Regions from separate parts of the Homo sapiens genome. Here region 1 is linked to region 2. The links come from fine-mapping of genetic effects on gene expression. Tissue or cell type: whole blood. Region 2 holds a variant in brackets; the other region holds the start of a gene. All regions are shown on one strand. Distances are between the middles of the regions.

Evidence for each region. PIP is the estimated chance that this variant, and not a neighbour inherited with it, causes the effect.
Region 1: it holds the start of ACVRL1, and the variant in region 2 is fine-mapped to the expression of ACVRL1 in whole blood (TOPMed, PIP above 0.99).

Annotation. Positions count from the first base shown.
Region 1 is chr12:51,903,680-51,911,779 of GRCh38, forward strand. ACVRL1 (activin A receptor like type 1) reads left to right here and starts at 3,825. Exons shown (of 10, transcript NM_000020.3): 1 at 3,825-4,016. RefSeq lists an enhancer at 3,986-4,494.
Region 2 is chr12:51,882,849-51,890,945 of GRCh38, forward strand. It overlaps ANKRD33 (ankyrin repeat domain 33), which reads left to right and starts at 5,255. Exons shown (of 5, transcript NM_182608.4): 1 at 5,255-5,483; 2 at 5,720-5,970; 3 at 6,219-6,348; 4 at 6,524-6,634; 5 at 7,736-8,097. The coding sequence starts at 5,339. The variant C/T (reference allele first, on the strand shown) is at 3,297.

The sequences.
Region 1 (8,100 bases), 21 kb after region 2:
CCTAGCTACTAGGGAGGCTGAGGCAGGAGAATCGCTTGAACCCAGGAGGCAGATATTGCAGTGAGCCGAGATCACGCCATTGTACTCCAGCCTGGGCAACAAGAGCAAAACTCTGTTTCAAAAAAAAAAAAAAAGAAAAAGAAAGAAGAGAAAATCAGTCAACATAATCTACCGTATTAACAGACTAACAAAGAGAAATTACACAATTCGTATCAGTGGATGCAGAAAAGGCATTTGACAAAATTCAATAGCCATCCATGATAAGAATACACACACACACACAAAAGAGGAATGGGGGAACTTTCTCAATCTGATATAGAGTGGCTACTACAAGAAACTTACGGCTAACATTATGATTAATAGATTGAGTGTGTTCTCCTAAGAGAAACAAGGCAAGGATGGCTGTTCTGTTTTGACCACTCTTATTCAACATAATGCTAGAAGTTTTAGCTAGTGCAGTCAGGTAAGAAAAGGAAATAAAAGATATGCATATTGGAAGGTAAGAAATAATACTGTCTCTATTTGCAGATGCAGATGACTGTCGATGTAGAAAATCCCAAAGAATCCATGAGGGGTAGAAAACCCAAATACCTCACCCCCTTGAATAAGTGAGTTCAGCAAGGTCACAGTATACAAGATCAATATGTAAAAATCGATTATATTTCTATATAATTTAATGAACAAATGGACACAAAAATTAAAAATAGCATATCCTGTTTATAATTGCTTTTAAAAAGTATAAGTGTAACAAAACACATAAAGGAGTTAAATGCTGAAAACTACAAGAACACTGATAAATAAAAGAGACCTAAATAAATGGAAAAAAAATATATCATTAAGAATTTTAAGATGGCAATGACAGCGCATTAAACCAAGCATGGGGCCCTGTGCATCTGCACAGGTCACACTCCCATGAAGCCAGCCCCGCACTAGTATCAAGAGTGATGTTTGAGTCTGGGTGGGGTGGCTTATGCCTGTAATCTCAGCACTTTGGGAGGCTGAGTGGGTGGATCAGCTGAGGTCAGGAGTTCGAGACCAGCCTGTACAACATGGTGAAACCCCGTCTCTACTAAAAATACAAACATTAGCCAGGCGTGGAGGCACGCATCTGTAATCCCAGCTACTTGGGAGACTGAGACAGGAGAATCACTTGAACCTGGGAGGCAGACCTGAGATCACGCAACTGCACTCCAGCCTGGGCGACACTGTGAGACTCCATCTCAAAAAAAAAAGAATGATGCTTGAACTTAATACTCATAGCTGGTCCTGAAAGGTGAAGGTGTCCATTGCCCTGCCTTCCTGACAGACTCCATGTCACCCACCTTCCACAGATGAGAATCTGCTTGAGGTTTCACCCCACACAGAATCTCCAGGCCTCTGCTTCCTGCAGTGTTGGGAAATCCTTCTGAGTATCTAAATCTAAATCTTTGTCCTTTGGGCCTGTTTCCTCTTGTTCTGTCCTCACTGAATATGGGGAACAGCTGGTCCCTCTGAGTAATTAATTCTTGTAGACTTGGACACAGTCTGTAATTCCTTTTCCCTTTTCTCATTGGGATGACTCTCCAGGGCTTTCTCCAACTCTGGATCTCCAACTCTGACACCTCCCCCAGGTTCTCTGTGTGCTTTGGAAGGCATGGGGTTCACAAGAGCCCCAAAGAGCACCAGTCAGGGGCCAGAGGGCTCAGTGCTCTGGGGAGATGGGGAAGATTCCAGCACTGATGAACAGACTCCAGCCCCCCCTGGGTCCTCTCTTCCAGCTCCCAAAATGTACTCTATTTTTATCTGTTTCACGAACGCTGGTCCAGATAGTCTTCCATCCCCCACTGACTGTTAGAAGTGACTCTCAGCTTTTGTCCATCTCGAAGTTTCTGTGCTCAGTGTGCCTCTCAGACTAAAGGCTTCCTTTGGGAAGCCCCGACTCTCGCTTCTCAGGACAGAGATCCAGGGGTTGGGGGAGGAAAAGGTTGACCAGAAGCCATAGCGGAGCAGGGAGAGAGAGTGTGAAAGACAGACCCGCGGCCAGGCTCCCAGTTCTCCAGCTCGTAGAGGGCCCAAGTGGCCGCTATAATCTGAAAGAGCAGATATCGTAATCCCATAGTACTTCCTATTGGCTGCAGGACACAGTTCTGTCCTGACACTGAAATTTGGGTGTGTCAGGGTTCTGGGAATTCACAACGCTCACAACTTGTGAAGCAGCTGTGGGGTGGGGGATGGGGAGGGTTTCAGCAGAGGAAGTGAGGTCAGTCAATAATTGATGCCTGTCTGAGCTTTTAGCCATTATCTCCCCCAGCCTCTATTCCTGTCAAAAGGTGGGGCGGGGCAGGAGGAGGGGTCCCTGGCTCATCTTGTAGAATCCCCATATTAGAGTAAGACACCTTAGAGGTCTACTCCTGCTTCTAATACCCACGTCTTTCCAAGTGTCTCTGAGGCCACCCCCTCCCCAGCCTTTTCATTTATTCATTTAATTAACGAACGCCTTCATTGAGGGCCTCCTCTGAGTCAGGCTCAGCCAGCCAGCATCTTTGCTATGAGCTGAGATAAGCATCATTTCCGTCTATTCTCACAACCACCCTATGAGGCTGGCACGGTTTACTATGCCTATTTAGCAGATGGGGGACTGAAGCATGGAGAGGTGTCACTAGCCTACGGTAACACAACCAGCCTGCATTCCTAGTAGGTAGTTTGACTTCAGAGTCTCTGTGGATAACCAGGAGGCTAGGACTAAGACCAGAGTCCTGCAGGTACTTAGATGGTTGGAGCAAAGCAGGGCAGTGAGGTCAGTGCTCCCAGCCTGTGCAGGAGCATCAGGAAGAGTCTGTGTCCCCCTCCCCTGCCGGTATGAAGCCATTCTGCTTCCCTCCCCAGCTGCCTTGTGTCAGCAGAGTTCCAGGGAGGCTCCATTCCCCACCTCTATCTAAAGCTCCATTTGCTGGGGTGGGGGCCCTGCCTGGAAGGGGAAGGTCCAAGGCTGCTCCCAGCGTGTCCCTCCATCCTGACTGTCCCTGGCGGGGCGGGGGTGTCTTTGTCACCCAGCTGCACAACGGCCAGGAAGGGCTCAAACCATCCTCAGGGCTAACCCAAGGCCGTCCTCTGGGCCTGTATACCCCTGTGCTGAGTGCGGATCGGGAGAGGCTGCTGAAGACAGGAGGGGACAAATGGGGGACGAAGGGGCCCGAGGGAGGGGACTGAAGGATTTGGGCCAAGTCGGGAGTTCCCGAGGGCGGAGTCAAAACGCATCTGGATTTTGCTAGCCCCAAACTCTGCCCTCATTGCTGCAAGCCTCCTAGACCGAGGACCCCCGGGCTGAGGGTGGGGTAAGGATAGGTAGTGTCCCTCCCCGTCCCACCCCCGCCTGTCCCTTCCTCGGTGGCCCCTTCCCGGCGCCCCGATTCCAGGCGGCCCCTCCGCTGCTGCCAGCCGATCCCCCTCTACCCCCACCCACTACTCCGGCCGCCAGACGTTGCCTACAGTCTCGGCTCTGTCTCCCACGGCTGTGGGTCCGGACCCCACGGGACCCCTATGGGACCCCCACAGGACCCCCACGGCCTGAGTCCAAGGCCCGCCCCCTCGGGGAGGCGGATGTGGGAGGCCCGGCCCGGGTGCGGGCCAGCGACCCGGGAGCTGCGGGCGGCTGGGAGGGGAGGCCGCCCTGAGGGGCTGGGAGCGGCGCGGGGGTGGGTCCCGGTCCTGCAGCCCCAGCGAGGGGCGAGCGGCGGCCAGTCGGCGAGCTGGGCAATAAGGAAACGGTTTATTAGGAGGGAGTGGTGGAGCTGGGCCAGGCAGGAAGACGCTGGAATAAGAAACATTTTTGCTCCAGCCCCCATCCCAGTCCCGGGAGGCTGCCGCGCCAGCTGCGCCGAGCGAGCCCCTCCCCGGCTCCAGCCCGGTCCGGGGCCGCGCCCGGACCCCAGCCCGCCGTCCAGCGCTGGCGGTGCAACTGCGGCCGCGCGGTGGAGGGGAGGTGGCCCCGGTCCGCCGAAGGCTAGCGCCCCGCCACCCGCAGAGCGGGCCCAGAGGTGAGTCGAGGTCCGCGGACGGGACCGGGTGGCGGGCGGCCTGACCCCCGCTTCAGTGGGCCCTTCCTTCGGGCGGACCCCAGAGTCACCGCAGAGTGGTCGCGGGAGGCTCAGTCCCAGCTCATTAGAAAGGCAAGCTGCTCCTGGCTGACCACGCACAGCTCCCATGACCCTACCTGAGACTTGGAGGGGAATGGACGAGACTGGACTGGAAATCAGAAACTTGGTTCTAGTCGGGTGACCTGGGGTCAGTGACTTCACTTCTCTGTTCTCCTACCCTCTTCATAAAATGGGCAGTGGGATTCCTGTCTTGCTCTACTCACATAGAAGGGATCACACGTCCTCCAGGCCGCTGGGTGGACCTGGAGTGAATGCCTACTTCCACAGCTGTTGAGCCTCCCAGCAGAGCTCACCTTTCCCAGATCAGTCCTTCCAGCTGTTGCTTGAGGAATCTGACACTATCACTCCAACCTAGGAGTCTCACCCTAGGCGCGCATGGTCAGTCACCTCCTTGCCACGACCTTCCTTCAGGATCCAGGCCAAAGGGGATCCCAGTCTCCCCCCAGGCTGGGACCCCAGATTTTTCCATGGAGGCCAGTGCTGTGAAACCCATGGCTGGGCTGGCTGCCCCAGCTCCTCTTTCCTTCTCCAAGGACAGGGGCATAATGGACAGTTGCTCTCACTCTCTCTATGTATGGCCAGCTTCTGGCTGAGTCAGGGTCTGTCCTAATACCTGTCCTCTCACCTGTCCCCCCATTTCATTGGTTTGTTAGAAATAGCTACCATTGATTGAGTACTAACTATGTAGACACTTAGATATATATATTTTTTCTCATGTAATCCTGGCCGCAACCTAGTGGAAGAGGGGTTACTATCCCCTTCCTACAGAAAAGGAAACAGACATGAATATGGGACTTGTCCAAAACTCCTTGGATGGTGGGGTGAATGGCATGGTTGGGGTCTTGATAACATTTCAGTGCTTACTGTGTACTACTTATACTCTGCTAAATAATTGTACTACATTTTACCTATGAGATAACACTATTATTATTCCCACTTTACATATGATGGGAAGCCTAAGCCTCAGAAAGTTTAAGTAACGTCTCAAATTTCATACCTCTAAGTGGCAAAGGCAGGATTTGAACCCAGGTCTCCATGCTCCAGAGCCCACACCCTAACCTCTGTGCTACACTGTGCTGCCTCCATGGTCTGCCTGAGACCTGAAAATCCAGGCATCACCTGGATGTTCCACTGCATCACCCCGCTGTGAAGGGCTAATAAATCACATGGATGAATCGTAAGGGCAACCCAATATGAACAGCTGGGTCTGCTCCTCTGCTGTTGGGGTAAGGCCTACTGAAGTGCAGAGTGAGTCCAGAAGGTTGTGCTTGATATGGCGCTTCTCCAGCCCTGTGAAGATCACTGCTGTGCTGAGCCACTGCCGTTGATGGGAGTAGGTTTTATCAATCCTTCAGGTGTGCTAGGGAGAAAAACATTGATAAGCACCTTTCGGGCATACCACTACTCTGGCTCTCCCCACCTGAGGCTCAGACTTTGACTAAGCCTATGGCAAACAGATGATTTCTGGGCAGCAACACCACCTTTGTTGCCTGGGTCAACATAGTGAGACCCTATCTCTACTAAAAATAAAACTGGGCATGGTGCTGCACCCCTGTAGTCCCTTGGGACTTGGGAGGCTGAGGTGGGAGGATCACTTGAGCCCAGGAGTTCAAGGCTACAGTGAGCTATGATTGCACCACTGCACTCCAGCCTGGGCGACTGAGCAAGACCCTGTCTCAAAAAAAATTAAAAACAAACAAAAACGCTGTCTTCATTTAAACAAATCTGAGTAGGGCACCCGTTAATAACAACAGTAGTGGGCAATTTGTACACGTCCACCGAGACCCATGTCTTTTTCTTCCTTTGAGGGACTCATCTAACCCCAAACAACTGGAGGAATAACAATGACCAAGGAATGATTTATTATCAGCAATTTAAGTTTATTAAGACACGCTCAGTGACTATGGACAAGAAACTGAACATCTCTGAGCCTCACTTTCCCCCGTTGGACTGTTGTGATGATTAAATCAGATAAACCATTCAAGTTCAGTACTTAGCACATAATTAGTACTCAGAGAAGGTTAACTGTTATTATTAAGTATTTCATAGTGTTTAGCTAACGTTTGAAATTAGTTTAACGTCTGTAATTTCTGGCCAACAATAGTGATGCTTCTGTCAGCAGGAGATCTTTCACAAAGTTTTGCTTAGAAGTGAAAGGATCCTGCCAGGCCCCAGGAGTCTGTCTGTGCTACAGTCAGATTTCAGGGTAAATCGTACAGAGTCAGCTCTGAGTTTGGACTGGTCGGGACTCAGCATCCTCCTGTACTTGATCTCACACTGGGTCCAGTTAAAAATTGGACAGTCCCAATTTTACTCCATCACATTCCCAGGATTAGACCATAGATGGGTTCTGCAGATGCAGACAGCCTCGCTCCACAGTGTCACCACGTCCCAGCTTTGGTGTTTACCCTTGGCTGTCCCTTCTGTAGTAGATGGGGAGTATCCTGGGTGGGAGTGAGTGTCCCCTCCCTCTGCATCCCACTCCCACTCACCCAGCAGGGCCCTGTACAGCAAAATGAAAGCAGAGGAACCAGACTTAGCGTTGTGCCCACACAAACTGATCAGAACTCCCTGGGGAACTTTTAAAAAATGCATGTTTCTTGCTGATTCCAGGACTGAATCAGAGTCTGGAGTGAGGGTGAAACCAGTGAATATGCTTTTCTCAGTGAGCACTTCAGGTGATTCTGATGCGTGATAAAGTAGAAGGAGGGTGGACTGGGGCACGGCCAGAGAAGTAGAGGTACGGACAGAGGATCCTAGAGGAATGCCGGATTTTAGCCTTATTGTTAGCCACTTTTTCCTTTCCACCTCAAACCCTCTCCTTTGCAGCTTTCTGGGCTAGCAAAGGCTGCCAAGGATGGCTTCCTGCTAGTACCCCAGTGGGCAGATTCAGCTCCTCTAGGGTGCTCTCTCCATCCCATCCCACCGTCAGTCCTGCCGCACAGTGCTAGCCAGAGTCCTCACTGGCTGCGGGAGGGGCAAGAGGCAGGAGGTCAGGCAGAGGCTGGGGACACAGCTGCAGCAGCCCAGGGCTCTGTTTCCTCCCCCAGCCTGGGCCTCTGGGGCAGAGGAAGCCCAGGCAGGAAGGCCAGGCCTGCCACCAGCCAGAGAGGCCTATGAAGCCCCCCTACCCCACCCCTAGCCATACTGCCCTCAGAGCCTCAGCATCTTGGGTCTTCATTTGGCACCATTCTTAGACTATGGGCTTTCTGAAGCCTCTGTGGCCATGTGCCCAGCCCTGTCAGGCTCACCATGTCATGCCAAAGGACAGTCTCCCTGCCTTGTGCCCTGCCTGAGGATCCAGTCCCCAGACACACACCTGCACATGCTCCACCATTCAGAAAGTCCTGTTGCTGTCTGACCAGGGTCCTTCTTGCTGCAGCTTTAGCCAATATCTTCTGGTTCTAAACCTGTGAGAAATGAAGACTGGGTGGCTTCAGAAGCACTAGTTGGTGTGGGACCTGGATTGGGGACTATCATAGACCAGAATTACTCCCCCTAACACTCTCCAACAAACTTCTGGAAAAGTTCAACCCTAGTCAGCCATGGAAGGTCAAACATTCAGTGTCTAAGTGTGTTTCACTTCCCCTGCCACATCACTGGCCCTCCACCCACCCTTTCCTAGATGGCAAGGGGAAAGAAGGGGGCCAGGGAACAGCTCCGAGAGGGCAGCTTATACTCTGGTGAGCTTGCAGAGAGGTTTCTCTACACCTGGCATGACCCTGCCCCGTCCGAGCTTTGCATGGTTGTTATAGCCCTGAGGGCTCAGACATGGGCTGCCACCACTGGATAGGGACAGAGCGAAGAGAGCACTTGATTAGGAGTCTGGAAACCTGGGATGTACGCCTGCTGGTGCCAGTGAGTCCTGTCTGACCCGGGACAAGTCTTCTTCCCTGTATGAGCCTTACTCCTCTCTTCTGTAAAACAAGGAGCTGGATTTTGTGATTCACAGGATGTCCACCTA
Region 2 (8,097 bases):
GAATTCTGGGGGAAACAAACACTCAGATCATAGCGTATCCCATGTTCAGGGAGGAGAGAAGATCTAACATTATGAGGCAGTCAATTTTCCCCAAATTACTCTATAAATTCAAATAAATGCCTATCAAAACTGTAGCAAAAATTTTAAAAGAACCCAACAATCTTATATGCAATTTTACATGAGAGAATAAAAATCAACTTCAAAAAAGAAAATCAGATATGGAGAACTTACTCTATCAGGTAGTCAGAGAGACTACAAGGCTAGAGTAATAAAATCAGTGTAGCATTGGCACAGGAATGCCCTCATAAGATGCTATAAGATAACTGAAACATAGCATAAAACATAAAAGAGAACTCAACGTTTACATGTGATAAAAACGACACCACAAATCAAGGGAGAGAGAATTGTTTAATAGATGGAGTTATCTTGCTAAATGGAGAAAAAAATAAGGTTGGATCCTTTATTAGTCTGTTCAGGTTGCTTTAACAAAATACACAGGCTGGATGGGTTACACAACAGAAATGTATTTTCTCACAGTTCTGGAAGCTAGAAATCCAAAATCAAGGTGTCAGCAGGATTGGTCTCCAGAGAGGCCTCTCTCCTTGGCTTGTAGATGGTACCTTCTGACTGTGTCCTCACGTGTCCTTTTCTTGTGCAGGCACAGAGAGAGAGAGTTCTGGTGTCTCTTCCTCTTCTTATAAGGACAACAGTTCTATTGGATTAGGGCCCTATCCTGCCCTAATAACTTCATTTAACCTTAATTACCTCCTTAAAGGCCCTGTCTCCAAACACAGTCATTTTTGGTGTCAGGGCTTCAATATATGAATTGGGGTTGGTTGAGGGAGACACAATTTAGTCTATAACAGATTATTTCTTCAATATTATAAAAGTGAATTCCAGATGAATTAAAGACTAAATATTAAAAATAAAACTGCAAGATTAATAAAAGAAATGAAGATCTTTGTGATCTTGGAGTAGAAAATTCTTAGTAAACAAGACCCTGAACACAAAGTATAAGGAGAAATTCTGGTGAATTTAACCATATCAAAATTCAGGAGCTATTTCAATGAAGGTCACCATAGATAAAGCTAACAGAAGGGTTTATATAGTACAGTTGCCTCATCTATAACCCATCTGACAATGGCTTTATTATCTAGAATATTAAAAGAATTCCTGAAAAATCAATAAGAAAAGGATAGGAAAATTCAATAGAATACTGAGCAAAGGCCATGAACAGTCAATTCACAGGAGGGAAAACAAGATTGGCCAGCAGGGCATGTGGAGAGATGCTCACCTTGTTGATAATCAGAAAAATTCAATGTAAAATAGCAATATCGCTTTATAGTTCTATCAGATTGACAAACATTAGAAGGCTGAATAATGACATGTGTTGTCTAAGACGTAGGGAGACTCTTATGCACTGCTGGTAGGCACACATGGTGAAACAGAGTGCAACCTGAGTATCCACTCAGTAAGTGTGTATGTGCCCTGTGATCTAGTGATCTCAGAGACCCCGATGGGTCCACAACTAGATACGTATGAGGGTGTTCACTTTGGCATTATTTATAGTGACAGGAAGTTGGAGGCAACCTAAGCATCTATTGCAGGAAGAAGGGATAGGCTAAATGAGGTGGATGCACACTATGGAATTCTATAAGCAGGAAGAAAGAGGGAAGAAAGAGGGAAGAAAGAAAGAAAAAAAGTGGTGCACTCTACATCTTTCATCAAGACAGTGTTAATTATAGTGAACCCCAAGTTTCTCTTCAAAGAATCAGTATGTCAGTATGTTCAGCTCTCTTATTCTTTGATTATCCATTTTAAAGTTTAGCTTCCTGGTTCTCTTCCGTTCCCTTGCTCCTGGTTTTAGTAAACAACTTTCCCTCTAGTCCTAATCAGTAGTTCACATCTGTTCTCTGGTCAGCTGCTCCATCCTGACTCATCCCGTTTATCTGCTTTGACCTGAGTCATCCCAGTCACCTGCTTTGACCTGAGTCACCCTGGTCACCTGCTCTGATCTAAGTCACCTTTAGTTCCCTGTTCCTAACTGTCCTTCCCGCCAAACTACCCACCCCGCCACTCTAACTCATATCCCTGCTCTCTTTAAAATAGCCAATCGGAATTAGCTTAGGCTGTGCGGTCCAACCCTAGCCAATAGGGGAACGCCACAGCAGTAGGGCCGTGTGTCAGGAATAAGAACTCCTTCTCCTCTCCTGTCCAGGTGTGCTCTTGCCATTGTTCCATTCACGACTCGCACCCTTCTATAGAAGTAAAAATTGCCATGCTGAGAAAATTAAATTTATGTTCGAGTGCTATTTCCTTGCAGCATTGAAAATTTATTTACAACAACAGCATGAACTTTTTTCCTAGAATCCCTATCCATCAGACTTCTGTTTGCATTTCATTGGCCAAAACTGCATTACATGATAACACCTAACTGAAAGGTAACTAGAGAGAAGGGGAGTTATGAACAGGGATTGTGTTAGATAATCAGAGATGTCTGGTTTATCATCTGATAGATTTTTTTCTAACTGCTGTATAGAATTCCATAGGGTGCATCTATCCCATTTTGCTGTGATGGCTAGAGGTTTAGCAGCCATCTTGTGCCAAGGAGGAAAAGTCAAGAGAATCCCAGAGAAGGCCCTGACAAGTTTCTTAACCAACATCAACAGTTTCCTATTCCTGAACTTTTTATCATGTATTAAAAACAAGCACCTCTTTGTTTAAGCTACATGTGTCAGAGTTCAATTGCAGACAACAGAAATAAATCTGGACCTGGTGCAGTGGCTCACGCCTATAATCCCGGCACTTTAGGGGGCCGAGGTGGGCTGATCAACTGAGGTCAGGAGTTCAAGACCTGCCTGACCAACATGGAGAAACCCCGTCTCTACTAAAAATACAAAATTAGCCGGGGTGGTGGCACATACTTGTAATCCCAGCTACTGGGGAGGCTGAGGCAGGAGAATCACTTGAACCCGTGAAGCGGAGGTTGTGGTGAGCCGAGATCGCGCCATTGCACTCCAGCCTGGGCAACAAGAGTGAAACTCTGTCTCAAAAAAAAAAAAAAAAGAAAGAAAGAAAGAAAGAAAGAAAGAAATCTGATCAGTTTAAACAGAAAGGGATGGAGAAGCAGGCTTAGGTCCAGGAACAACCCCCAGCTTTGAGAGTCACATGACCTCTGCCTGTGATTGAGAAAACAACAGTCACTACTACAGGAAGCTGATGAATCAGGAAGCTGCTCACCAGAGCCTTGCTGCTGCTGCCATGACCTGTGACAGCAAAACGGATGTCCCATGCTA[C/T]GTAGCTCTGTTCCAAATTTATATCTTGCACAAGAGCAGGACGCAAACCACAGAGTCATAGCTCAAGGGAATCTGGGAAGGGTTGTTTTAGCTTTCCAACTTCTGCAGCGCAGAAGAAACACTGAAAGCAGTTTTAGATTAATGTTGAGGAGCCCGTCTATTATGGACAACATACCATTCAGCTTTTTGGTTACTAAAAACCAAATGCACATCCAACTGATACACTGCACCTAAAGCAATAAGGATGGAGCTTAAGTGAAAAAGAAAAAACTAACAGAATAAGTTCTATAGCACAATTCATAACATGTTAGTTAAAAACACATACAAGCAGAGCATGGAGGCTCATGCCTGCAATCCCAGCACTGTGGGATGCCAAGACAGGAGGATCACTTGATGCCAGGAGTTTGAGACCAGCCTGGGCAACAAAGTGAGATCCCCATCTCTACATAAAAAAGTTAGACAGGCGCGGTGGCACACACCTGTGTGCCTCCGAGAAGCTCGTAGCTTCTCGGGAGGCTGAGGTGGGAGAATCACTTAAGCCCAGGAGTTTGAGGCTGCAGTAAGCTATGATCATGCCACTCCACTCCAGCCCAGGTGACAGAGTAAGACCCTGTTTCTAAAAAGAAAAAAATAAAATAAAAACACACAAATCAGTACTATCTTTTTCAATGAAATGTACATTTTCAAGGATATACAAGTGCCAGTTGGTAAAGGGTGGAGGAGAATGGGATGTGGGGATTAAGGGTGAAAGAGAGAAACTAAAGAAAGTAAAACAAAACAAGAGAGAGGTCTTGTACAGTCTGATGATGGGAGTGATACCAATGGGGGAATATCATTGGCTCCATTTTCTACATCTGTGGACCAAGACCAATCCATCAAGCTTAATATGTAATATAAATATTAAAGAATATTTTGATAACAATTTATCATTATATTAACAGATCATTTAATTTAAATATTTCATATTTAATTTATCACACTGAAACTAATCTATTAAATTTCATACATCATAATTTCTGGCCAATCCCTCCCTCACTACTGCCTGCCGCACTTTGTGCCCCGACTGCCCACCTGCACTAGACACATAATGTCGGTACTCACAATTTCGTTTGTTTGTTTGTTTTGTTTTTTGAGAAGGAGTTTCGCTCTTGTTGCCTAGGCTGGAGAGCAATGGTGCGATCCCGGCTTACTGCAACCTCTGCCTCCCGGGTTCAAGTGATTCTCCTGCCTCAGCCTCCTGAGTAGCTGGGATTACAGGCGCCCACCACCAAGCCCAGCTAATTTTTGTATTTTTAGTAGAGACAGGGTTTTGCCATGTTAGCCAGGCTGTTCTTGAACTCCTGACCTCAGATAATCCACCCGTCTTGGAATCTCAAAGTGCTGGGATTACAGGCGTGAGCCACCCCGCCTGGCCACAATTTTTTTTTAAAAGGAGGTCTCCCTCTGTTGCCCAGGCTAGAGTTCAGTGGCGCGACATCGGTTCATTGCAGCCTCGACCTCCCGGGCTCAAGCGATCCTCCCACCTCAGCCTCCTGAGTCGCTGGGATAACAGACGTGAGCCACCGGGCCCAGCTCTATACTCATAATTTGACAATTATGTTTTTATTTCCCCAGAACCTCAAAAAATAAGTTCAGGTGACCCCCCTGGAGACCCCACCCCAGGGTCATTCTGAGAGTACCAACCCTATTTAATGAGATACCTGCATTCACTCACCCCCTCTCCCGCAACCACCCCTTCAGCAAGTCGCGCTCCACCCAATTAGGAGGGGCTTTAGGCTGGGCCTAAAAAGTTGGGCCAAGACCCCACGAGGCAGCATCTCCGCCGGCGTCCCCAAGGCTGAGAGTGGGCGCGTCCGTCAGGAGGAGTCGTCTTTGTGAGCCCGCCCCGGCGGGGAGGAGCTGCCCGGCTCAGGCCCCGCCCACCCGGAGGATCTTGGGGCTGGTCTGAGTCCGCTCCTGAGACGTGACCACCCGCCCCGCATGGGGCCCCAGTCCCAGCTGCTTGATCCGGCTCAGCCCCGAGGTGTTTGCAGCAGCTCTTTATGAAAGTCCAGCCATCTGTTACCTGCGTTGCTTCCTGGGGAGGGATAGTCCACCTGGAGGCATTCGGAGACCCAGTGATTGTGCTCCGCGGAGCCTGGGCTGTGCCCCGCGTTGACTGCCTCATAGATACCCTACGAACCCCAAGTAAGAAAAAACGACGACCCTCTCTCCGTGAGTCTCACTGGGGTGCTGACCTAGAGTGAACCCTGCTTGCTTAGGGCTCCTGACCCAGCGCTTGTCCTTTCTCAGGGTGGATGGGGCGAGACCCCTGCTGGGATAAATGTTTTCCCTGGGGCAAGGGCTGTGCACTTCGCAGCTGCTGGGTCCCCTCCCTAGGATCCAGGGAGACACTCACTACTCCTCTCCATTCTGTGTTTTAGATGCCAGCTGCATGAGAAAAGGGACTCACCTTCTGGTTCCCTGCCTGGAAGAGGAAGAGCTGGCATTGCACAGGAGACGGCTGGACATGTCTGAGGCACTGCCCTGCCCGGGCAAGGAGACCCCCACCCCAGGCTGCAGGCTGGGGGCCCTGTATTGGGCCTGTGTCCACAATGATCCCACCCAGCTCCAAGCCATACTGGATGGTGGGGTCTCCCCAGAGGAGGCCACCCAGGTGGACAGCAATGGGAGGGTGAGATGTCCTGGCTTCCCAGAACAGCTGGGGGCATCTTTGCATCCCCACCACACCGTCCTGGCCTGGCTCCCTGAGAGGGGTTCAGGGGCAATACCTCCTGCAGTCCTAAGGAGGAAGGGAATGGTTAAGGGCGGGTCTTCACGGGGTTTGGGGCAGGCTCTGGGACAGATATGGGTTTAGAGGGTGCAAGGGGCCCTGGAGTGGCCCAGGGGGAAAGCAGGGGATCTGAGCTGCCCCTCCCTCAGACAGGCCTCATGGTCGCATGCTACCACGGCTTCCAGAGTGTTGTGGCCCTGCTCAGCCACTGTCCTTTCCTTGATGTGAACCAGCAGGACAAAGGAGGGGACACGGCCCTCATGTTGGCTGCCCAAGCAGGTGTGAGGCTGCTGCACCCCACTTCCGACAGCCCCCTTTTGATGCAGACAGGGCCTCAGCCCCACCCTTGTTGCACGGTGTTCTACACCAGACTCTGTCATGCTGGGTGGAGGGCGGTTTGGGAGCTTCATCACCCCCTTTCCTGGGGACCAAGCTTACCCTTGCTGCCCTGCAGGCCACGTGCCTCTAGTGAGTCTCCTGCTCAACTACTATGTGGGCCTGGACCTGGAACGCCGGGACCAGCGGGGGCTCACGGCGTTAATGAAGGCTGCCATGCGGAACCGCTGTGAGTGCGTGGCCACCCTCCTCATGGCAGGTGTGCGGGGCCTGGACCGGGGTGTGTGGCCTCCAGTCCCTCCTCCAAGCCTTCCCACCAGACACTAAGTCAGCTGTGATTATTTGCAGAAAGGAGAGAGGTGGAGATGGGGGATCAATCTAGTTCACCTTCCTGGAGGGGGGGGCACATGATTTGGGCTTCGTACAATCAACCAAGTCCTGCTATTGATAGCTCAGACATTGTGTGTGGAGGTCCCAGGAAGGAAAGTGTGGGAGGGGAACCTAGCCCAGCTGGAAAATCTAACACGAAAAAAGGCTGGCATCTGGAACCAGCCCCTGTTCCTAGCTGAGTGGCTTCCCTCTTTGGGCCTCACCAGTATTGTGAGGGTGTTAGCTTTCCCTGGGACTACCTCCAACTCTGACAAGCCAGGCTTCCAGGGGATCCAGGGAAGTGTCGTTGAGGCCTGTGGCTCTGTGGGGTCGTTCAGGGGGAGGTGCGGTGAAGTCCACATTGTCCATGGAGTTGTTTGGGGGCCCTTCTTCCCCGCAGTGGGGCTGCCCTCTGCTGGTCACTCTGGGGGACCCCTGCCTCCATTTTTCCCTTCCCCACACACCCCACTGGGTTTGGAGTGAAAAAGGAGTGAATGAAAAAGGAGGGCGCTCTACACCCTTTCTTTTGTCTTAGAGTGACTGCTCCTCCCACAACCCCAAGATGGGAGAGGGAGATGGTGAGAAGAGAAGAACCAGGAGAGGGAACCAGCCGATCATCCCCACCCACCTGCCCCAGAGGGTGCAGCTCAGGCCTCTGCCTGTCCTGGGCAGCCTGCACCGCTGCTCTGCTCAGCTCCTTGGATTGAGGAGATCCCTATTCTGCCCTAGGTGGAGCCCCACAATAGGTCTCTCTGAAGTCTTTTCCCCTCTCTGGACCTAAGTGTCTTAATCTCTCTTAAACAGGAGGTTGCAACACTGGCCTCCCTGATTCCACCTTCAACAGGATGGGACTCTATGGCTTCGAATGTAACCCACATCAGTCTTGCTCCTAAAGAATCTGCCCTTCCACAAATCACCAACCCCTATCCCGCCCCATGTCACCCCCTGTGCTCCTTCCCAGGTGCTGACCTGACAGCAGTGGACCCTGTTCGGGGCAAGACGGCCCTGGAATGGGCAGTGCTGACCGACAGCTTCGACACCGTGTGGAGGATTCGGCAGCTGCTGAGGCGGCCCCAAGTGGAGCAGCTTAGCCAGCACTACAAGCCCGAGTGGCCGGCCTTGTCCGGGCTCGTGGCCCAGGCCCAGGCCCAGGCCCAGGTTGCCCCTTCACTCCTAGAACGGCTGCAGGCTACCTTGAGCCTCCCCTTTGCCCCGTCTCCTCAGGAGGGGGGTGTTCTGGACCACCTTGTGACTGCCACAACCAGCCTGGCCAGTCCCTTCGTCACCACTGCCTGCCACACTCTGTGCCCTGACCATCCACCT